Linked DNA regions of Homo sapiens: regions 1 and 3 are each linked to region 2. Evidence: fine-mapped QTL for protein levels in blood plasma. A gene starts in region 2. Each other region holds a variant in brackets. All regions are shown on one strand. Distances are between the middles of the regions. Region 1 holds the start of LOC128966558 (a long non-coding RNA gene). Region 2 holds the start of CPVL (carboxypeptidase vitellogenic like). Region 3 overlaps CPVL (carboxypeptidase vitellogenic like).

What was found. PIP is the chance, under the fine-mapping model, that this variant and not a neighbour inherited with it causes the effect. Protein levels are from antibody-based Olink assays in UK Biobank. Linkage for the fine-mapping came from a reference panel and not from the study's own genotypes, which makes the PIPs less certain.
Region 1: its variant is fine-mapped to the plasma level of the CPVL protein (UK Biobank, PIP above 0.99). The variant lies in the coding sequence of CPVL. If it changes the protein, the assay may bind it differently, which can mimic a change of level.
Region 3: its variant is fine-mapped to the plasma level of the CPVL protein (UK Biobank, PIP above 0.99). The variant lies in the coding sequence of CPVL. If it changes the protein, the assay may bind it differently, which can mimic a change of level.

What each region holds. Positions count from the first base shown.
Region 1 is chr7:29,117,057-29,125,237 of GRCh38, forward strand. CPVL (carboxypeptidase vitellogenic like) reads right to left here. Exons shown (of 13, transcript NM_031311.5): 2 at 3,837-4,015. The coding sequence starts at 4,005. LOC128966558 (a long non-coding RNA gene) reads left to right here and starts at 5,379. Exons shown (of 3, transcript XR_008485572.1): 1 at 5,379-5,586. The variant C/T (reference allele first, on the strand shown) is at 3,932.
Region 2 is chr7:29,143,502-29,151,649 of GRCh38, forward strand. CPVL (carboxypeptidase vitellogenic like) reads right to left here and starts at 3,036. Exons shown (of 13, transcript NM_031311.5): 1 at 2,928-3,036. It also overlaps a transcript of CHN2 not described here.
Region 3 is chr7:29,088,515-29,096,695 of GRCh38, forward strand. CPVL (carboxypeptidase vitellogenic like) reads right to left here. Exons shown (of 13, transcript NM_031311.5): 4 at 7,589-7,703; 5 at 6,570-6,628; 6 at 4,109-4,188. Among named protein-coding and RNA genes, the nearest start is that of CPVL-AS1, 12 kb to the left of the region's middle. The variant A/G (reference allele first, on the strand shown) is at 4,149.

The DNA of each region.
Region 1 (8,181 bases), 26 kb before region 2:
GGCTACATTTGAATACCCAGATGTACCAGATTTTGAATCAGCCACTTAAAATTCTGTTCAAAGAATTTGACTGTGTAACATAACTTCAGGAAGTGATATTATACACAGATTTAATATTTTAAATGTTGTCAATCATCAGATGAAGATCTACCAATCTTGACATGGGAGGGTGGAAGATAAAACTACCTCCCTTGGAATCTTTCTTGGCTGCTGCTAATACCCATAACTGAGAAATGCTCATAGGCAAGAAAGACAAGAACAGGAGAGATGTCAGTAGTCTCTCAGATGGATTTCTCTGTATTCTTTTTACTTGGTTCCACCAGATGTATGATACAGAAACACCATGGTCACTTTCACTTAATGCCTTTGTTTAAGCTGTTTCTCTCATTTGGTACGCACAGACCTTTCGCTATTTACGTAAATCTTACCCGACACTCTGAAGTCCAGAGCTGGTCATACAGCATAGTGGTTCATATCATGGGCTCTGGGGTTGGCCAGTATAGGGTTTAATTCAGAGCTGCTCATATAGCATAGTGGTTCATACCATGGGCCCTGGGGTTGGCCAGTATAGGTTTTAATTCAAGCTCTGCCACTTACTAGTTTTATGGCCCTAGGCAAGATATTTGATTTCTCCGGGCCTCAGTGTTCTCATTTGTAAAATGGGAACAATGCTTATGGATTCTTCATTAGGGTTGCTCTGAGAACTACATGAGCTAATGGATGTAAAGCACAATGCCTGGCACATGGTTGGTACCCAAATTTAAATTCCATACATATTTATACATACCTATTATGTATAGGTACTATGCTAGGTACTAGGGATATAATGACTAAATGTTAGCTACTTATTATTTTTACAACTACGACAGCTCTAGTATTTTCTCCCTCGATTATGCCAACCGACAGGGATAGGTTCCTCCTCCGAATCTCCAGTGCACTTACTTTAAATGTAATACTTTAGTACTTTAGTATGCACTGCCTAATTCCTTAATTGTTTTGTGTGTATGCATCTGGTCACTTTAGAAGAACACTTTAGAAGCTTCTGAAACAAACAGAACTAAATTATAGTAGGCAAATCACAGAGCAGAAGTCAGAAGATTTGGGTCCTAAACCCATCTCTGCTACCCAACTCTACTGCACACATCCCGTTGGGCAACTCGGATAAAGTATTTCAGTCTCAATTTCCTCATATGTGGATTGGTAGAATTTGGTTATAACAATTACTTAACTCCTTTTCATCCCTACATTAAATGGTTTGCTTTGATTTACTGTTAATGAACAGAAATCTAAGCCATCAGAATCCACTTGTTAAGGAAGCTGAAATACGTGCATGTAATCCAATTTGGAGGGTTTAACGACACTTTGCCTCTTCACAAGCATCTTAATGGTATCAGCCCATATGGTGGGGCAGCCATCTTCCCAAGACTTCTCTTGTGAGGTAAAAATCAGTCCTTTTTAAAATACACTAAATACATTATCAAAGTTTTTCATCTTTCCTTAGAAAAGAGATGGTGAAACTTGAAGCCAATGTGTATTTCAGAAAAAGACATATGAACAGCACTTACACATACCCTTAAAATACAAGAATGTCTTCGTGTAAAACGAAAACCAAAAAACAATGACATCCTATTGGCTGTGAGAACACTTTGAACGAATAAAACTTGCTTTATTTTAAACTTCTTTATAGAGTATTTAGATTTGCTTTTGATCTTTAAAATGACCATTTGTCTAAAATTTCCGGTGTTCTTCTTCATTCCCATCACATCTGCCAACCTGCCAGCTTCACAGGCACCATCTCTGCCTTCCCACCTGTGACAAGGGACAACCTTGGGGCCCCTGTGTGCCAGATCCCTGTCTCTCACCTTCTTAAACACAGTCTCCAACAATGGTTCCCCAAACCAAACCAATTCCCCACTCATCATTTCCATCAGCAAACAAACATTCTCTCCTATTCTGTTAAAGACCCTTCCTGGACCCCAGTGCTCCCTCCAGCCACTACCCCATTTTTCTGCTGCTCTTTGCAAACAGCTCCTCAGAATAGCTACCTGTCTACTGTTTTATAGCTTAGGAACCTACTGAAGTCCAGAAAGTTGAAATCATTTACTCGCACAGTGATTAAGCGCAAAGAAGCATTAAGAGCAGATACAGGGCCGGGGGCAGTGGCTCACGCCTATAATCCCAGCACTTTGGGAGGCCAAGGCAGGCAGATGACTTGAGGTCAGGAGTTTGAGACAAGCTTGGCCAACAAGGCAAAATCCCATCTCTACTAAAAATATAAAAATTAGCCGGGCGTGGTAGCACATGCCTGTAGTTCCAGCTACTCAGGAGGCTGAGGCAGGAGAATCGCTTGAACGCAGGAGGTGCAGAGCGCAGTGAGCCGAGGCTGCACCACTGCACTCCAGCCTGGCAACAGAGCAAGATTCTGTCTCAAAAAAAAAAAAAAAAAAAAAAAAGAGCAGATGCAGGTCATAAATTTTAGCCTCTGATAACACTAAGTGATACCTTTTTTCCTATTGGTAATAACAATAGAAAAACCCACAATCTCTAAATAAAGCCAATTGCAAACACTCATATTTGGAGAACAACTTATAGAGTACAAAAGATTTTCACGTGCCTTATCTCATTGGATTTTCATAACATCTCTGTAAGTTGGGTAAGTTGTTAAAGCTCCATCTTATCTTAATGAGAAAACTAAGGCCCAGACTTGCTGGATAACGGGGCACAGCAGGGAGGCTGCAGTGAGGCTGAGTATGAAGCCTACACACCAGCTGATATCTGCATGAACTCTGGCTAGTAGCTCAATCTCTTTCTGCCTTGGTTTCACATGTGTAAAATGGGTCCACCTCCCCGGGATGTTGAGATGTTTAAATAAGTTCATGCAGAAAGCTTGGAACCAGTGATTGACTCATAGTAAGTTTTAAGGATAGTATTAGCATTAAGTGACCACTGGGGGACAGGCACTCTACTAGTCTTATAAATAAAATGCTGCAACTCAACCATGCAGGTAATTCAACCCCGGCTAATTCTCATTTTAGCTAAAAACTCAGACAACATATGACATCAAGTCATTAATATTTGACATAGGCTGGGTGCGGTGGCTCATGCCTATAATCCCAGCACTTTTGAAGGCTGAGGAGGGTGGATCACCAAAGGTTAGGAGTTCAAAACTAGCCTGGCCAACATGGTGAAACCCCATCTCTACTAAAAATACAAAAATTAGCTAGGCATGGTGGTGGGCACCTGTAATCCCAGCTACTCAGGAGGCTGAGGCAGGAGAATCACTTGAGCCCAGGAGGCAGAGGTTGCAGTAAGCAGAGATTGCGCCACCGCACTCCAGCCTGGGCAACAGAGCAAGACTCTGTCTCAAACAAACAAACAAACAAACAAACAAAATATATATATATATATTTGAAATAAAACAACTGAGTAAAAATACTGAAATATATTTTGCATCCTATGGGTTACTTGTTTTAAGAAAAACTATTGGCCAGGTGCAGTGGCTCACAGCTGTAATCCCAGCACTTTGGGAGGCCGAGGTGGGTGAATCTCGAGGTCAAGAGATCGAGACCATCCTGGCCAACATGGTGAAACCCCTCTCTACTAAAAATACAAAAATTATCTGGGCATGGTGGCTTGTGCCTATAATCCCAGCTACTTGGGAGGCTGAGGCAGGAGAATTGCTTGAACCCGGGAGGCGGAGGTTGCAGTGAGCTGAGATCGCGCCACTGACCTCCAGCCTAGTGACAGGCGAGACTTCGTCTCAAAAAAAAAAAAAAAAAAAAGAGAAACTGTTGAACTCATGCCAGTGGTTTTCTGATTTAATTAAACTTACTTACCTTTTTGGATCTTCCCAGCTTCAATGTAAGGGGTGAGAAATAATGGCTGTCCTGAGTCTCCCTTAGGTGGCATGGAAACACTTCTGTATAGGGAG[C/T]GAAACAGCCCATCACAGGGGCCAGGCATCAACAGGACCAGCGAAACAATCACCTTCCACATGGCACCAACCATCTCTCAGGGTCTAGGATAAAAACAGCATTCCAAAAATGAATCATAAGAGTAAATATTTACCTGGCCCTTTTACATGCAAGAAATTCATTTATTCACTTAAAAAAAATATTGTGTGTAAAGGCCCTCTGCAAGGACCTTGGATAGCACCATAAATAAGCACACCCAATCCCTGCTTACTCTTAAATTCAAAGGCTAATGGGAGACTCTTCAAGGGATTTACAGTGTCAGTAATTTTTCAATTACTGATTTTTTTTTTTTAAACAGAGTCTTGCTCTGTTGCTCAAGCTAGAGTACAGTAGCACAGTCACGTCTCACTGTTGCCTTGACCTCCTGAGCTCAAGCAATCCTCCCACCTCAGCCTCCCAAAGTGCTGGGATTATAGGAGTGAACCACTGACATTTTTTAAAATGCAGTTTGGAAAGTAAATTCAATGGAGGATTAGATAAAGACTCAGAACAACAAGAACTCTGTAACTGACCATAAATGGGTGGTAGAAACCATTATGCCACCACAGAAGGGCAGAGGATTGAAAGCACATTTCAGGCCGAAAGATCACAGAAAGGCCTTATCCAAGTTGGATATGGATAAAAGGTGAATGGTTCTCAGACAGGTGGGAGAAATGGGAAAGGCATCATGGGTGGGTGGAAACAGCTTAAGCAAAGGTGAGACCTCAGGCATCCATGCACACCTTTCAGGGAAATTTCAAAGAAGCAATGGATTTCTGGTTATGTTCTCTATCTCTTATAAAGCCCCAGTTTGTATCAAAGAACAACAACAACAAAAACAAAAACAGGAAGGAAGAAAGAAAGGGGGGAGGGTCCTACAACTACCCTTAGGTTCCTCCCCTTATTGCTAGCTGATAAGTAAATTAAAGACATTAGGCCCCAAACCATTAGCACAAAGCTTTCCAAAGATCTTCAGATCTGATGTTTGCTTAGAATATTCATCTGAGATTATAATAATAATGGCATAAAACTGTATAATTATTTACTTGAACATCAATATGTAAATTATATTTATAGTGGGCTTTCCCATGTATTTGTAGATGATTTGAATCTCCTAATTCCACCAGTGTTACAGAAAAACGACTGAATGGTATTTGTTAAAGCATGGAGACAAAGACTTTGTCAGGATAATGACAGGCACAGGGACCTTGCAGTCAACAGTCTTGCAGCAAGGAAGAGAGATTGGGCTCAACTCCAAATGCAGCACGGGCCAGTGGGAATTTATAGCCAAGGAGCAGTGTGGGGGTCAGTGGATGGAAAATTACTCAAAGGAAGCGTTGGGGTAAGGTGGATCTGGCTAAACCTAACAGGATTCTCACTGAAGACAGGCCAGGGTGATCAGACATCACCTGGGGGATGGTGCAGGATGAGAAACCTGGTCAGACATTGAGGCGATCGGATGTTGATGTTGCTGGTTCTTGGTAAAACGACTTAGCTAGTGTCCTTTGCTAAAACTGGATTTTACAAGGACGTGCACAAACAGGCCTAGCAGGAGATTCAGAAGCCTGACTAAAATTTGGCCAAGGAAAAAAATCCTTGTCACCAGGAAAGTGAGGACTATTGTCACCAAATTCAGGTAAGGAAAACTTGAATCAAAAGAGTGTCTCATGCAAGGACATGAAAGTAGAGAAGGCCAGGACTAGGGAGAAGCGAGGGAGGTACAGATGCAGGGTCAGATCTCATCTTGATCTAAAATGTTGACCATTTTTATTATCATTAATTTTTCTCTGCATTATACAGTTTTTTAACTATTACATTAACATATTACTAGTCTTGAATTTTTTTTGACACTTTCTTAAGTTTTACACCTGAGGTAGTGCCTCTCTTGTCTCACCCTAATCCTGACCTTGCTAAGTAGGGAATTATGACAAGCACACCAGGGCCGTTACATGACTCTGCACTCCTGCTATTTAAGCATGATCTATGTTCTTAGCTGTAAATTCTAAATCAAATACATGAAATGAAAGGGTACTCCACACATTCACATTTCTGGATGCAAAAAGAGATACACAATTATGCAAATATAATGCCTGCTTTTGTTCAGTGCTTTAAAATGCCAAGCCATTAGAACATCTTAAAAATACAAAACGTGTAAAAATCTTTTAACGACATGCTTATTACAACCCAATTTGGCATAACATGAAAATATTGGTTATAGCAAATTTTAAAAGCTTTTCAGGCACATTTCCCCAGTAAGATAAAGGTTTATAATTATAATGTGATTGAATATATAACCCTTGTCATGTCTCTCAGGGTTAACTTACTAGAATTCCCCACACTTAATGTAAATAAGGCCAACCAAATCCAGGATGGAGCTAAAAAATGCTTTTGCCTATTACTGACTATAATAAAGAACAAAATGAATTTAGGAACTGAAATTAGGTTCCCAAGAAGCCCCAGGGTAATGACCTCTATGGCACTGTGAAAACATTTTTTTAAATTACTTGAACTTGTTTACACTGATGCTTTTATAGCACAGCTACTTTCAAGGGATGCCTGAAATCAACAATCTTACTCTCTAACTGGTTCAGAAAAAAAAAAAAAAAAAAAAAAAAAAAAAAAATATATATATATATATATATATATATATGCAATATTAAAAAAAAATAATGGAAGAAGCTCTTCCAGTAAGAGGTTTTTGTTTTTTTTTTTTCCCCTGGGGACAGAAACAAGAAACCAATCATGCCATCTAATTTCTCAATCTTCCTGCTGCCAATCCCTAGCTCCCTTTAATGGAAGCCATTAATATTTAAATAACCAGGGTAGTTACAGCACTTCCCTTGTAAGCAGATGTTGACTCAAAGATGTTAAAAAAGGAAAACAGGTAAAACTGGTCCTGTTTTAATTGATATAAATCTAATACATAAAAGTAAGAATTGGGTCAATTTAGTAGATCTCATTAACATTTAATCAAATAACTATCTGAGTCATGGTTTCCCATTCAGGTGAATTAAAGCACCGACATACTTCATTTTACAGTTCTCATTCAACAGTCAGAATTCCTGAACTGTGCTTAGCTGTTATCTCTCCTTATGAGAATGAAAGCTATTATCATAAATGGAGAAGTGGGTTTTTTAAACACCCTCTCATATGTTTTTGCTTATCCTAAATTAGCATGAGTCCTTTTATTTATTGAACATTTATTGAGCAATTTCTAAACCAACAAACCTTATACTAGACAGAGGATATCTCCCACAGAAAGTTGAAAAAGAAAATTGTTAACCCTACACTTTATCATACCTACTTGAAATAATATGAAAACAGTGGTGCTATTTCCAGTTCAAACATATCATATTGAAGAATTCAAACAAAATGTTCTTCTTAATAAATGTTTAGAAACAGAATAAAATCTGGGTAAATACAAAACAATATCAACAGAATCAAAGACTCTAAAGGTCAAAAGTATATAATTTGCTAAAATTGTCTTACTAAACCTTAAATATTAAAGTTGAAAATCATGTGTCCAATGTATGATTTTTGATATGGAACAAAGCTATTTATCCACAGTGTTCTTTAGAATAATAAAAATTGTCAATAAATAAAATTTCCAACAGTAAGACATCAGATAAGTTACTATATACCAAAAAGATAAAATTATTATACATACAGCAATTAAAATGATTCTACTAAGAATGTTTTGAAAAATATGATAAAATATTATTAGGTAAAGAAAAGCAGGATATTAGATTGGATATATGGTTTTTTTCCTTATTTAATACTTCTTAATAATTTCTAAATTTTCTACAAAAATTTTATACTCAGAAAAAAGGTAATTTTGTTGCTTTTTTAAAAAAACAAAGTGAAGCAACTGCTAGACATGGCAGAAAAAGTGCTTATTCCTTATTACTACCTGGGTATGACCTCTTCTGTTTCCTAGGAATAAGGTTCTATTTGTACTTCTAGAATAGCTTCTTCTTTCTCTAACATTCTGTTAAGATATGTCCTGATCTCCTAAAGCCACAGAATCCCAGAGACTCAAAGTAAATTTTCTCTTCGGCAAATCAGAAGGCTCTGCATAAATGTGAGATGCTATTATAATAATATTTATTATCATATCTGAATTTCATTCTGCCTGGAGTACAGTTCATAATGAGAGTGCATATAGTTGGTACTAAGCAAATATTATTGAATTGATGAATCTAAATAAGGAACCATATTTTAGACCTACAAG
Region 2 (8,148 bases):
GCTTGGGACCTGGGTTACATTCTCTCCCAAGAATCATACAGTACAAAAAGATATGTGGCACTATCTTTTTGAAAGAGGGGTAATGGGATACAGAGTCCCAAAAAGGAAAGGAGGAAGAGCTTACCTTTAGGGTTCAAAGTAAATATTTTGGCCTGTAAACAATTCTAAGCAATTTAAAGACAACCAATAACTAGAATCAGACTAGAGAGAAAAAGGTAGGAGGTAAGTTCCAACTATATTGGAAAGATAAGCTGCTAAGAATTTGCTTTTTCAGGCTCCAAGATCTAAGGACACAGTCCTTCCCCCTCTTTCACTACCACCACCCTGTCCTGCACCCCAGGGTCTGAGTTAAAGCAATGAAAGCATGTGATTTCATGTTCAAGGTTATACCTCTAATATCTCTTAAGGGAGAGCAATCTCAATACCCTGGTTTCAGTTCAGATACGCTGTAACAGCTGTCTTGTGAACTGTCTATTAAGGCTTACATCTTTGAGCTTGCAAATATAGTATAAAAGTTCAAACTCCACTACTGTTTTTACCAGGAAAGTACAGTTCTTAGCTTTTTGCCCAGCTTACCTCTCTCACAAGTCAATATAGACGTTAATGAGTCATTGTTCTAGAGGTATCTTTCTAATTCTGAGAAGCTTGCCTACTTCTTTTAAATGTTCTTAGTTCAGTCAATGAAAATCTCACATTATAAAGCCATCGGAAATGGTAAACTAAAACAATCATGTTTGCTCTTTAGTGAACCATACTTCCTATTAAGAAGGGGTCACTGGCCAGGCACAGTGGCTCATGCCTGTAATCCCAGCACTTTGGAAGGCCGAGGTGGGAGGATCACTTGAGGTCAGGAGTTCGAGACCAGCCTGGGCAACATGGCAAAACCCCATCTCTACCAAAGATACAAAAATTAGCCGGGCATGGTGGTGTACACCTGTAATTCCAGCTACTCAGGAGGCTGAGGCACAAGAATCCCTTGAACCCGGGAGATGGAGGTTGCAGTGAGCAGAGATGGTGCCACTCCAGCTTGGGTGACAAAGTGAGACTCTTGTCTCAAAAAAAGAAAGAATGGGTCATTACTATTTACCTTGAGTATTTGGGTGCTAATAAACAGATATCTGATGATACCTGGGGCAAGAACTGAGTTCCTCCCCTCTCATTGCCTTAGTTCTGTGCATCCCAGGGTAGTATTCAACACTCAGTGTTTCCTCTGACAAACTAGATGCTTCCCAAAACAAAAACAAACTCATTTTTAGAATTCTGTTATATTATTTGCTTCTTGTTTTTATTTTTTGTGGGGAGTGAACTGGTAAACCCAGTGGACTTTCTTAACACTCTTCTAAGTCATTCAAACTGTCAGTCAAAACCCACCTATTTCTCAGGCTAGTAGAATCCCACTATAAAGTGATTTATAAACTGGATTTATATAAATTGGGGGATCAATTGCCCCTCCCAAACAATCATCTCCTATAAAAGATTAATAAAACAACATCTGGTTAAGAACACTGACACTACATTATAAAGGGTTGCCCCTGTACTTAGACTAGCATGAGGTACACATCTAGAATGCCCAGTTAGCCAAACGGTCTTGACGACCATGCAGACTTTCATATGCCAACAAAGCCGGTGCAGTGTACTTTTCCAAAAGTGCTCCAATTCTCCTTTTGGACAACTTTCTTAAACGTTATTTACCAAGCTAATAAAATGTATTCTCAATGGACTTTTTACTCTGCTTACATCTTTGTTCTTACTCATCCCAAAGCAAAGAATGGAAAAAAAATGAGTTGTACATTTAGCCGGGGAAGGGAAAGGCAAGTACTGAGGGGCTCCTTTTTCATTTACTGATGCCAAAACTGAGGCTGTGGAAGATAAGTTACGTCCCTGATGTCATCCAAGTAGTGGATACCGGAACCAGGAATTGCACAGAATTGTCCAGCTCCAAAACCCAAGCACCTTGCTTGGGACCCACTGGGGTTGCAGTGAAGGTGGGGGGCTCAGAGGTGACTGCACACGGGTCATGCATAGCCACAGTCATTATATGGCCAGAGTTTTAAACATTATTTTGTTCTGTCTTCACCATAGACTTCATCATCAATCATAACTGATAAGGAAAATTACACTTAGCTGAAAAGCCAAGTCCCGTGCTAGGGAGGCATTTTCTGTATGTTATTTCTATTTCCAATAAAACAATTCTTTAAAAAGAAAAACTTATTATCTCCATCTTTCAGATGGAAAGACTGAGGTTTAGTAGGCTTAAATAATTTGCCCGAGGTCACTCACTAGCCAAGGCCAGAACTGGGATTTAAATCCACAAATATTCCAAAGTCCTTTTGTTTCTGTATCACTTCACAGGGAGCTGCTTCCACCTGTCTCCTGTGCCCTTGGTTTCTGCTAATCCTACATTCCAAGAATAAAAGTCTTCCTATGCGTTCCTAGGCAGAAGCCAAGTTTCCCTGCTTTGGGCACGTTCAAAATAGAAGGTATTTTCCGCTTCTCTTGCTTCTGAGCACCCACGAAATCAACACATCCCCAAAACACGCGTTGAGGGAGTAAGGGAAAGTGTCCTGCACCCGCCACCCTCCCGCGCTAAGAGCGGCAGAGGACCCCACAGCTTCGTACTTCCCCGGAGGAGCTCCTGGAGTAGGAGACGGCTTCTAGCCTGGAAGAACCCCGGGTGCGACAGTTGTGCCAGGAAACTTCAAGAGTATTCCCTCGGCTGGGCGCACGCAGTACATCCCCAATGCTCCAATTTGAACTTTGACTCGGCCACGACCACCCCACTCCAGTCTCACTCTACGGTGCTTTCTCCCCTGTTGGTGCTGAGGGCTTTTGAGACTACCTGCCCCGCGCTCCCTAAGTCCGAGGGACCGAGGCGAGGACCTGTCCCGCTGAGCTGGCACGACCCACGCAGGGCAGGCGGCACTTACGCGGCGCAGTCGGTGCTCCTCCCTGAGCCGCGGCGCGCAAGGACCCCAGCCGGTTGTCCTTGCAGCGCTTCCCAAATCAGGCAGAAGTGAGGCAGCCCCACCCAGTCACGAGGACCCTGCAGAACTCGAGCCTTTAAGCGCTCCTCTAGGCTCACATGACCCAGACCCACAGGGCAAAAAGTGCGTCGTCGTGTCCCAACCTCCTGGTCCCAGAAACCTGGCCGCATCAAGTCAGCGCTTCCCATGCTGGAAGAAGCAAGCAGCCCCAGGGTGGAATCTTAAAAATTAATGAAGAGCATCGGCGGGGTGCCATTCAGGTTGGTTTGTCCCTTTGTTTTATTTTGATTTTGTCTCCCAGTTTTTAAAAGCTGCTATCTTAAAATTTCAACCCTGTATTTTGAAATTATTTCTGCACTCTAGGACTTACTTGCAAGCCCAGGATTTACATTTGGAAAGCGAGTGGTGTTTGATTCCCACTGTTTAAAAAGGCAACACACGTTCGCTGATGGTCTACATTCCAGCTGCACTAGCAGTAAGCTCGCACCAAGTGCCACTGTCCTGCCAAGCACTCTCCTGAATCACTGCGCTGGAGTCTCAGAGCCACCTGATGTGTTCTGTACCATTATACCCATTTTGCAATTGGGGGACACAAACTAAGTGAGGTTAAGTAACCCATCCAGGGTCACATTGCTTGTAAGTGACCTGAGTGTATATTATTAGCCACCACCAGGTGCTGGGCATCGAGCCAGACAGTACGGGAGCAAGAACTAAAAAAGGCAAGGAGGTTGCAATGGCAAGTAGATAACACAAAATAAAGGAGGGTCATCATTATCAGCAACAGCAGCGTCAACTGCCAGACAGGTGGGAGAGGCCACGGGGAATCTTCTGCACTGTCCCGGGCCAACCTCCATCTCCTCACAGCTAGCTGCAGGAGTGAGCCCAGGGAAACCCGCAGTAGAGCAGCCCAGCCAACCCGACAGTCAGGGGGAAAAATTGTTTTAAGCCACTTTCAGTTTCGCGTAGTTTGTTATGCAACTAAGGCTAACTAAAGCACTAGTTTTACGAGCTGGAACAAACTAATGTCACTGAATATCTGTTTTCTCCTAAGTACCTACTTTATTGGGTTGTTGTGAGGACTCACTGAAAAACTATGTGTAAATCACCCAGCACAAAGTATGTGCTCAGTGACTGCAGTCATTCTTTGCTATCATACCTTCCATATGGAAGTACTTCCTACCCACCTAGCTCTTTAAGGAGAAAAATCTGTTTGTGGGAAAATAATTCTTTTAAGGCCAAAATCAGCCCACCTTTAATATATGCAGGACCCAGGGCAAAAGTACAAACAGAGATCTGTAGGCCAGATACCTAAATATTTAAAAGTTATAAACAAAGTTAACAAATGATTAAGTACAATAAGTTCTACCTTCCTACCTAGACAAATATACCTTGGGAATTGACATGAAAGGCCAGATTGAAACTTTGGATGATCTGCACTTAAATATGATGGTGCAGGGAGAGGCGATTTCCAGTTCCTGGTTTGCAGCCACCTCCTCTCTTCCCACAGGGCTCTAGTCCATTGGTGGAAGCTCGGTCAAGCTTCCCAGAAGCAGCTGTCCCCCAGCCACCTCTTGGGCACAAGAGTATGAACACCAGAGTCAGCAATGTTCGCCCATGGGAGTACAGACATTAGCAGATAACACTGCTGCTGGCGTGCAGACCCTTGAAGCAGGCTCAGTGCCATTTGGGGAGGGAATTTGGAATTTGCCTTCTAAAGTGTGGGCCCTGGACAAGGGCTCCTTGGGTCTAAGTATAAGGACAACTACTGGCCAAAGAATACCTGTGCCCACGTGGAACCACTTAAAAACTAAACTGAATTTTACAGTAAACACAGGAGGAGCCATGCTGTAAGCATATTTATTCAAAAACAGGGTGTCCCAAAAGTCTTCCTGCAGTTTTAGTAACCTCAAGGCTATAAATGCTGCAACTTATAAGAACACCATTTGAAAGTTAATTTAACACTATTTATCTCTGTGAATGTTGAATAACACGTTTTAACTTTAATTTTTGTTTCAGTTCCCCTGAGTGAAATATGGCATACATTAACCAGAAGAGAAAATTACATTTATTAAAATAATTAAAACAGAGTCAAAAGAAGTAAACGTTCAAATGAGTTTTGTAAGTTTGTAGCATTTCGACTTAAGAAGTTATTAAAGCTTAAAACTGCACTGACCTTTTTGGGGTACCCTGTATTCGGATTTGTCGTGTGTCAGGTTCTGTGCTAGACACTTGATTAAAAAGAAAAAACAAGAAAAAAGATAGTCTTCTTTAGGGAACTTGAAGTTTAGTTGTGGGGAAGGGATGAAGGGGACACACAGATTGATCCCATCATACAATATAAGAGCTGTAATTGGGGCTGATAAAGTGTGTGTGTGGGGGAACAGAGGACAGGGACCAAATGACTCTGCCCGAAGAGCCAGGGGAATCCTGTCAGAGGAGGTGACTTGAAGCTAGACATTAAAAAATGAATAGCCACTGAGGGGAAAGGTGGCAGCACAGGCAATGAGCAGGCCACCTGCACTCAGGTTGATGCTGTGCTCTTGGACAGATGGACTGTGCGACACCAGGCGTGTTCAGGGTGGGTCGGGGGTTAACTAATACTGAGGTTAGAAAATTAGACTGGAGCCAGCTTGGAAAGGGCAAGAATGCTGAGCTCTAGAGACTGATGTTGTTCAAAATTAGTAGATTGGGAAGTCTGTTTCCCTTTTTTTTTTTTTTTTTTTTTGAGACAGAGTCTTACTGTGCCGCCCAGGCTGGACTGCAATGTCGCAATCTCAGCTCACTGCAACCTCCACCTCCCGGGTTCAAGCGATTCCCTGCTTCAGCCCCCCGAGTAAGCTGGGACTACAAGCACCCGCCACCACAGCCAGCTAATTTTTTGTATTTGTAGTAGACACGGGGTTTCACCATATTGGCCAGGCTGGTCTCGAACTCCTGACCGCAAGTTATCCACCTGCCTTGGCCTCCCAAAGTGCTGGGATTACAGGTGTAAGCCACCGTGCCCAGCCTGGAAATCCATTTTCTTAATGAAAGAGAATAAAATAGAACAAAATAGTACAGAACAGAATAGAACCATAGGACAGGAGTATGTGCTTTCCAGGGAGGTTGTAACTGAGCAGCTATTAACAGTAGAAATTTATTGTCTCATAGTTCTGGAGGCTACAAGTCTGAAATTAAAGTGCCAGCAGGGCCAGGTTCCCTCTGAAACCTGGAGGGGAAGGATCCTTCCTCGCTGCTTCTAGGTTCTGGTAGCCCCAGGTGTTCCTTGGCTTGTGGCAGCATCAACCCAATCTCTGCTTCAGCCTTCCAGGGCTTTCTCTCTGTGTCTTTTCACAGTGTCTCCCCTCCATGTGTCTGTCTCTGTGTCCCAATTTCACCTATTTATGAGGACACCAATGACATTGGATTAGGGTCCACTCTAATGACCTCATTTTAGCTTGATTACTTCTATGAAGACTCATTTTCAAAATAAGGCCACTTCACTGCTGCAATAGATATTTTTAGCCCTTCTCTTGTATTGAGAATATTCAAAGGTTGGCCAACAAATCGGTTTGCAAAGAGATTCGTTAAGCCTTCTTTGATTGGCTTTCCTGAAAACAAGATTTAAAACTGTCAGGTCGATCACAAGCCCTTGTGTTCTCTGCACCTGCATATTCTAGTGAGGTTTGGGTTTGTTAAGCCCTAGTGGTTCAGAGCATGGGTCAGACTCAGTTTGAATCTAGAACCTTGCACCTAATGACCATAAGCAAGTTACTTAATCTCAGTTTTCTCATCTGTACATGATAAAAATACTATTAGCTATCTTGCGGTATTATCAAGAGGAAGAAATAAGATAGTAGTACATATAAAGTGCTTGTCATATATAAAGGCTCAAAAAATGGCAGCTGTAACAATAATAATGGTGATCATGACAATCAAGATTCTAGGCTGTGACTGCAGTTCTTTCCAACTGTCTATCCAAGACAACTAAATTGTATCTGGACACCACACAAAAACATGCTTCTCACTGACCTATAGCCGGAGCTTTGCTGAACTCCTTAAATTCCAGTTAAGAAGACACAGAGAATAGATCATTTACACATCTTGATCAGGTAAATACAATTCCAATTGTCTAAGTTTGTAGGTCTGATTTTACATTTGCAGCTGCTGCCAGCAAGATAAATGTGGAGCTGCAATGGAAACAAGGGGAATTGATTAACCTTGTAGGCAATCATGCCCCTCTTGGAAGTGTCTAGGTCTCTCCCTGCACTTGTCAAGGCTTCTATAGCCATTGTTCCTTTTCAGTGTTGTTACTGATCTTCAATGGGGCCACCGGGTAGCCTGGAAACACAGCTCAGAGGCACAGCGAAAAGAGAAATGTCACAGCCCCCATGCACCACAATTAATTGTTCAATAAACACTTTTCTTAAGGAACGAAGCCAGATGTGTCACACCCACACACTTGCAAAACAACACTGTGCTATTAAAAAAGGGAGGGGTGGGTGGTAGATCCAGCTGAAGAAAGTCTACAGCTGTTCTGCACCTCAGCTATAAGCATTGAAGGCTTCATTAAGTGAGAAGTAGGCCCAGGTGGCGGTAACCAAGCTCTAAGACACAGACACATGCCCTGATCAACTTATTGAAGTGCTTCAGTCTCCTTGTACTTGGTAAGGAAGGGGCACCTCCTAAGACTAGCCACAGGCTACAGACTCCAGGGAAGTTGTGGATAATTACATGGTAATTATTTCTAATAAGTGCTTCCACTCTTAGCATGATTATCCTTCCCTGGGTTGCTTGCCTCCTTATGCCTGGTTTATGTAGGGAAACAATGTCCAAATTAATCTACGTCTTTTGTAAGTGAGCCTATACTCCTTTGACGATCCAGATGGTTTAGCGCCCTTTAGCAGCAGGTGTTAAGGCTTTCTTACAAAAGGCATATTTTCAGTTTCCCTTCGGCTATGGAAAAAGCCAGGCAAATAAGACTTCGGTGATTTAAGGATAAATTATGGGATTAATATAGACATGGCCACTAAGGACAGCTGAGCAAGCCCTGTGTAAAACCAAGAGAAATAATCATAGTGAAACTTTGTAAGGATTTTATGGTTTGCCCAACACTTTTTATATATATCATCTCTTTTAATTTTCACATCAGCCCTGCGAGGTATATATTGATATTATGATGAAC
Region 3 (8,181 bases), 55 kb before region 2:
AGAGTGAAGAATGAAAAAAGTAAATTTAGTAAATTAGATTTACATATGCCATTTGCTCATTTAACTGTATTTTAGTCAAGAACTCTTCTTATTACATGGTGAGCATTTTCTAGAAAATAGAATCTAGAATCAAGCCCACATGAAATTACAAATTTTAGAAGCAGATCTGCTAAACATATATATAATACATAAGTGGCCGGGCGCGGTGGCTCACACCTGTGGGAGGCCGAGGCGGGCAGATCACGAGGTCAAGAGATTGAGACCATTCTGGCCAACGTGGTGAAACCCCGTTTCTACTAAAAATACAAAAATTATCTGGGTGTGGTGGTGGGCGCCTGTAGTCCCAGCTACTCAGGAGGCTGAGGCAGGAGAATTGCTTGAACCTGGGAGGCAGAGGTGGCAGTGAGCCGAGATCACGCCACTGCACTCCAGCCTGGCGACATAGTGAGACTCCGTCTCAATAATAATAATAATACATAAGCATGTGTGTTCACAAGTGCACACTCCATGCATTTATTCAGGTACAAGAGCTACATGGCACAAGAAGCATGCTTCTTCTTGGTGATTCCATTTGGCCACCTTGCTGGCATTGTGCTAAGGACTTGTCTCATAAACAGAATTTTAGTTAAGGGCTCTCTGCTCGCAGAAAGGTACCTTAAAGGACCAAAAAGAGAAACAGATTGCAAGGAAGAATGACTAGGAGAAAATTATTCCTCAGATAAGTTTTTAAACAGAGATTGGGTGGATGCAGGGCAGAAAAGGTGAGTGGACATGATCATGCATTGTAGACCCAAAGACAGCACTGGAATCTGGTCAGTTCTAATAGAGTCAGAAGCATAATCATAAACACAAGCAACATTCAGGATAATCGAGTTTCAGATAATCTAAGCAAAAGTTCCATGCCAAAAAAGCCAAGCAAAGTGTACCTACAGTCACTGGCAGTGGACTTGAGGTAAGAGGTGGGACTCAACTACAAAGGTAGGGCTTGGACACTGGATCAAATTGAGGACTAGCTAAGACAGGGCCTGGGCGGAAGCAGCTTTCCATAAGACATGCCTATCAGTGGGCCATGTCAGTTTACCATTGTGATGGCAACACCCAGGCGTTACCACCCCTTTCCATGGCAATGACCCAAAGACTCAAAAGCTACCATCCATTCCCTAGAAAATTCTGCATGAACCAACCCTTAATCTGCATGTAATTAAAAGTGGGTTTAAATACAACTGCAAAATTGCCCTAAGCTGCTACTCGGACTAGGCAGTAGCCCTGCAGGAGCAGACACGGAGTTGTAACACTGCCCCTTCAATAAAGCTATTTTCTTCTACCTCCATCTCACCATTGAATTCTTTTTTTTTTTTTTTAATTGAGATGGAGTTTCGCTCTTGTTGCCCAGGCTGCAGTGCAGTGGTGTGATCTCGGCTCACCACAACCTCTGCCTCCCAGGTTCAAGTGATTCTCCTGCCTCAGCCTCCCAAGTAGCTGGGATTACAGGCATGCACCACCAAGCCCAGCTAATTTTTCTATTTTTAGTAGAGATGGGGTTTCTCCATGTTGGTCAGGCTGGTCTGGAACTCCTGACCTCAGGTGATCTGCCTGCCTCGGCCTCCCAAAGTGCTGGGATTACAGGTGTGAGCCACCACACCTGGCCACCCTTGAATTCTTTCCTGGGCAAATCCAAAACCCCTCACAGGCTAAGCCCCACTTTGGGGCTCATCTGCCTTGCACTGGACCGATACAAGCTCAGCAACAGGAATCCTGGCAGTGCTGCTCTGTTGGAACCCGTGAAGGGAGCCTCTTCTGCATTCACTCTACATCTAGCAAGGCTGAGCCATGATCCTCTCCACCTGGCACAGGACACAGAGTTTTCTCATTTAATATAGGAAGCCTGCTTCCTAGCTGCATTGCTATGAAGCTTTGTTTAGCAACACTACATATCATTTCCCATTGCAAACCAACATGTAGGAGAAAACTATAGCAGCACTTCCATTTGGCTGCTAAGAAAATAACTATAGGTCCACCACTAGACTGAGCACCAGGAGGGCAGGGGGTTTGAGGACTGCTTACTACTGTCTCACCAGCACCAAGAACAGCAGCTGGCACATAATAGGCAATTGGTAAACAATGGCAGAAGGAGATTGGCACCAGCTAGTGTACTCCAAATCAAAGTTAATACATTTCATAATTTGTTTTAAACCAGAGAGGCATTGTGACTAAATAGCATATTCCAAATAAGAAAAGTGGGAGAGTATTTTAACATCTTGTTCGTGAAAAAGTTTTATTTCCAAACACAAAAGCAGCAAAACTGTGAACGGTAAATGTCTCCTTACAGCCATGCACTATTAATAGTCAAAAAGAATGAGATTTTCTGAAAAAAGAAAGTTGGTTTTCAAAGGGAGAAAATGAAAGCTCCACTCTTTAAACCTGTAGTAGCCCATTTGCAGGTTTTGAAGCGACCCTCTTATTCCAAACACCCATCTGGAGAGCTGGAGAGAAGAATGTGGTCACAAAGGGAAATGAATAGTGTAAACTATAAAGGAAACAGCTGAAATCAGTTTTCTGCACCACCCTTGATTAGCTATTTTCCAGTTCTAAGAGCCCGAAGCAAAAAGAACTACAACAGCTATAAACAATAGATGCTTTGAAATAGGTTCCCTTTACATGTCAGGAAAGAGGAGATGGACCACATGTCAGCAGTCGACATCCCCATATGGAGGGGCAACTGGAAGCTGTAACTGTCTTTGGGGGAGGGGAAGGAAAGACAGAAACGGCTTGGCAGTGATGCTCTGTCTTAGAGGGGGCCCGATGCATCTCTTCAATACAGAACCTCTGCCCTCAGGGTGTTTGCTAGTTAACCACTGAGCTTGTTTGGATTTAAACCAAAGAGGGATGGGAGGTGGGGGCGGGGAGTAGGTTTCTAATCTGAAGAAAGAGAGCACACAGTGCCAAGAGAGCCCTGGCCCTGGCTCTGAAGAAGCCTGTGAGGAGGACTGCCGTCCGTTACGTCTGTGGAGGGAAGGGGAGGAGGTGCTGGGGGGAACACCCCGTCAGCATCTTGGCAAATATGTCCCTAGGACCCCACTGTATGTGGAAGCAGAAGTGTGGGGCCCTGGGCATCCCCCTAGAAACTGAATAGAAGTGATCGAATCATGGAACATGTGAAAAACAAACAAAAGTGGAGAAGACAACAGCCATATTCTTTTCTGGGTGGGCAGAGGGAGAGATCTTTGGGAAAGGGGCTTGGAAGTAGTTCTTTCTTCTCTCCCCCCGGCCACCTATCTGCCTCAGAGAGAAAGAAAAGTAAAACGGAAAGCTTTTGTCAGAGATCAGCAAACTCTGACTCCTATTAGATGCACTTTCGCTTTGAGGATTGGTAGTAATTAACAGAGTGCTTGGTGGAGGTGTGGGGTAGGGAGCTAGTTAACTCCTTCTGGCCACTAGGGTTCTTTTAGTAAATTATTATAATACATAAAGCGGTGCCCTAGTGACCAGAAAGAATCTAGGACTTGGTCTCTAGTAATAATTTGTAGACTGGAAAAATCTGACCAAATAAGAAAGGTCACTTGCTTTTTTTTAAAAATGCTAAAAATAGCAATGATTAATATGAGTGAAAAAAGGGAGAAATTATATGGACACTGTTTGGCCAGACTTACAACTTTACATTTTTCCTTTTTTTTTTTTTTTTAAGCAAAACAAAACTTTCATAAGAAGAAGAGAGAATACTAGAGACTAACAAGCTAAGTTTTCAGCCTGGAAAAGTCATGAAATAGAAGCAAAAAGTAAAAAATTGCATCCAAAAGCCACGAAAAGAAGAATCCTGAGAAACAAACAAATATCTGAAAAGATGTTGTCTCCCTGCAAATGCAAAGTTAAATACAAATTTGGAAAACAAGTAGAAACCTTTCAGATGTCTGGTTGAAAGGTTTAAAAAATAATCTTTAATTGAAAAATTCTGCTCTGTGTGTGTGGATGTGAAAATATCCTTAAATTATCTTCAGGAATTGGACTATAAGGCTCAGTCAATAAAAATTCCAACACTAGAATAATTTTCCTATTGAGATAGAAAAATGTTTGGTCTTAGGAAAGCCAAGAGAAAGCAGGAGCATTTTACCTGTATAAATCCCGTGCTACATCGTCCTCATTGACTGCAT[A/G]TCCGTGGGTATCATCAGTAAAACTGAAGCCTGTGCCCACCTGCAGGAGAAATAAACACGCAGGTATAAACACAGAGAAACACATGCCTTAGGGACCTGCAGAGAGGTCCCACACTGGAAGGTGACCTTGTTCCAAAGGCCAAGCTCAGACTTCAGATTTTTGCCGTTGCCCCCCTATGCCTTTAGCCCTCCTCCCAGGAGGATGCTAGGTGCCACCTATTCTCTCCACCCCCTAAAGCCCAAATAAAACAGCAACACAGAGCTTTGCCCTGGGGTCAGTGGCTGAGCTGTCCTGTGCCTCAGTGGAGACCCTGCCAGATGTTGATTTAAGGAAGAAGGATTCATCTTTTCCATCCCCTGCTACAGTATCAAAAGATCCAAAGTTGTCTCCTCTCTGAAACCTGGAGAGTGCATGGCTCTGTCCTGCCAAGAAGAAACTCTTGGTTGGCGCAGTGGCTCACTTCTGTAATCCCAGCACTTTGGGAGGCTGAGGCGGGCGGAACACCTGAGGTCAGGAGTTTGAGACCAGCCTGGCGAAACCCCGTTTCTACTAAAAATACGAAAATTAGCCGGGCATGATGGCGGGCACCTGTAATCCCAGCTACTCAGGAGGCTGAGGCATAAGAATCACCTGAGCCCAGGAGGCGGAGATTGCAGTGAGCTGAGATCATGCCACTGCATTCCAGCCTGGGTGACCAAGCGAGACTCCGTCTCCAAAAAAAAAAAAAAAAAAAAAGAAAGAAACTCTTTAGGCTGAAGAAAAAGGTAGTTGTACATTGTCTTCCTCTTCTTCTTCTTCCTCCTCCTCCTCCCCCTTCTTGTCTTTATTTGCAAGAAATATGGCCATTAAGCCATTTCATCTTCAGTAGGTAAGGAGTTTTAACATAATTAAGACTAATTTTAAACTAATATTTTCTTATTAGAACCTAGAAGTTCACAGACAACTGAACTGCAAATTCAAAAGAAACTGAACTGCAAATTCAAAAGAAGAAGCTACTATTTTTATGTCAACAATTTGCATAAGGAATGCACTCCCTATCTGGTATAAAGATTTTTGTGTTTTTGTTTTCCAAACACCCAAGGATGTTTAATTCATCTTTTACTTAAATACACAGTTATGGATGAGGAAAATGGAAGGCTGACAAAACAAGGTGGGGGAAAGAGCATGTTGACATTTTTTTCCGCTTTTATTTGTGTTCTTTTGGACCATCTGAAAAGTGAGAGAAGTTAAAGATTTTAGTTAAGAGGGCAAAGATACTCCAAATCTGTAGAAGCTGACCCTAAGTTTCTCTCCTATTTTGCACCTTAATAGAACCAATATCAGAAGACCTCCCCAAGGAGAGTATCACTTTTTGTCCAGAGATGAAGCATGTTGCTTGTCTTAACAAGTGAAGGAGGCCAAGAGCAGTAGCTCATGCCTATAATCCCAGCACTTTGGGAGGCTGAGGTGGGCGGATCACTTGAGGTCAGGAGTTCAAGACCAGCCTGGCCAACATGGTGAAATCCCATCTCTACTAAAAATACAAAAGTTAGCCAGGCATGGTGGCGCAAGTCTGTAATCCCAGCTATTCAGGAGGCTGAGGCAGGAGAATTGCTTCAACCTGGGAAGTGGAGGTTGCAGTGAGCTGAGATGGTGCAACTGCACTCCAGTCTGGGTGACAGAGTGAGATTCATCTCAAAAAAATAAAAATTAAAAAAAAAAAGTGGAGACCCATTTTGACTTTTTATATCTATAACTCTATGTGAAAGATTAGACGATTGTGAAAGATTACAAGTTCTGACACTATATAATAACCTGTGATATAAGGAACCCAAACTGTTAGTGAAAAGAAATGAATTCCTCCTCCTGGGTTACCTAATTCAGTGAACAGGACATCTCATAGGATTAAAAATAAGGAAATGGGCCAGGCGTGGTGGCTCACACCTGTAATCCTATCATTTTGGGAGGCCAAGGCAGGTGGATCACCTAAGGTCAGGAGTTTGAGACCAGACTGGCTAACATGGTGAACACCCCCCACCCCACGCTCCCATCTCTACTAAAAATACAAAAATCAGCCAGGTGTGGTGGCACACGCCTGTAATCCCAGCTACTTGGGAGGCTGAGGCAGGAGAACCAGGTTGAACCGGGGAGGCGGAGGTTGCAGTGAGCTGCCAGCCTGGGCGACAGAGCGAGACTCCATCTCAATAGAAAAAAAAAAAATGAGGAAATGAGAGAAGGCAGCAAGGAAAATTGCCAAACTCCGATATGATTATACATGTTAACAGAAAAACTAAATCTCAAAATGGTTTTAATTTTACAGATTAAATTCTATTTTCAAAAGGAAAAACGAAATCTATTTTTTAAATGTACTTAATAAAAAGGAAAAAATAAAAGACAGGAGACGCCAGCACTGACAGCTCACAGGGTCATCCCGGACTTACTGGATTGTCAATGTAAAGCATGGAGAGCGTTGTGGTCCAGGGGAAGTCTCTGTCACGCACTGTGAAAACAAAGAAGAGGGGTGAGATAGAGTCGTGGACAAGCATTCCACCGAGGCCTCATGGTGGTCAGAAGCCCAACACACCCCACGGTCCTCATGAGCTGTTGGCGTACCCTCTAACAGTGCTGCACACTCTCATGGTGGGGAACAGGCACCTGCACCTTTACCCTCCCCACTCCTCTCCTTTACTTTCCCCCAGCCCAGAGTGTTTCTACACCTGAGATAAAGCTTGGAAACAAAACCCAGCAAAAGCTTGGAACAAAGCTGGTTCATGAAAAAACACCCACCAACCACCTCTGCAATAATATCCATATGTCCAATTAAATCAATCATCCTTAATGCTCCATCTCTTGAACAGAACTACTTCAACAAAACTGGCACATAAGCCTTTATACTGAGTCACAAACTGGCTCACACTCCAAATTCTGACCCAGGGGAAGTAAACAAAATTAAAAAAAAAAAAAAACAAAATGAGATGAAGGTAAACTTAGTGACAGCCAGATGTTGCTCTTTCTTTATCCTTCCTCCGCCTCAGCCCCCACCGGGAATAGCGTCTTGCTTCCAAGTTATCAGATAATGAGTGTGACTGAACCATAAAGTGTTTAGTTCATGTGAGTAATTAAGAATATAATTCCACCCATTAGTCCACTGCAAAGAGCTGTCCCAAATAGTAATAAATACCAACTGTTTTGCAAACCCAGAATGCTTGAGTCAGCAGCAGACTGCAAGAAAGCGGATTAGAACTTTTCACCCAAATTTCAAGGGAGAAAGCAGCCCAGTCAGGACACTCACCCCGAGGCTCCTCCTTCTCGGATGGATATTGCCAGAAAGTTGTGTTTTGATAATCTGGAACGGTTAAGCTATTCATAGTGGTTCAGTGTTTACTCTAAATTAGTTTTGGAGCAGGTATGAGGCTCAGATGAAAGATTCTATAGGAAATACAGTGCAAGGGATACTTACAGGTCATGTTACTTGTGACAACATAAGGCCCATGTTCCACAAAGAGTCCAAACATGGATGAACCTCCCGGCCCACCCTGTAGCCAGAGAACTACTGGGGCATCTTCTGGCTGTATCTAGAGGAAACAGTAAAACCAGTGACCACACAGAACACTCACTTAAGGCTACAGAACACACACAAGCAAACTTACCCAAATCCTCTCTGTGTTACAGGGCTGTGACTAAATCCTACAAAACCTCCCCAGACCTCAGTAACCACTCTCCACTATGAGCAAAGTACTGATCATCTTTGGTTCTTTGAATGAGGCTGTGCCTCATATGCTGGTGTCTTCTTATCATGCAGTCAAGTCTTTTCCCAACAAGAGACAGAAAGCTCCTTAAATGTAGATGCTTGGCTTGTGCATGCTGCCAGACATCTAGCATACTGCCTGGGGCATGGTTATATATTTTTAGCTGTTTAAACTAAAATTTGGGACTCTTCCATTTAACACACATATTCCCAACAGAGGCACAACAAAGAATCCATTCTCAGTGACACCTTCCCTTCTGCACTGAGAGCCCAAACGCCTTTCTGATTTTACTCACTAAGAACGT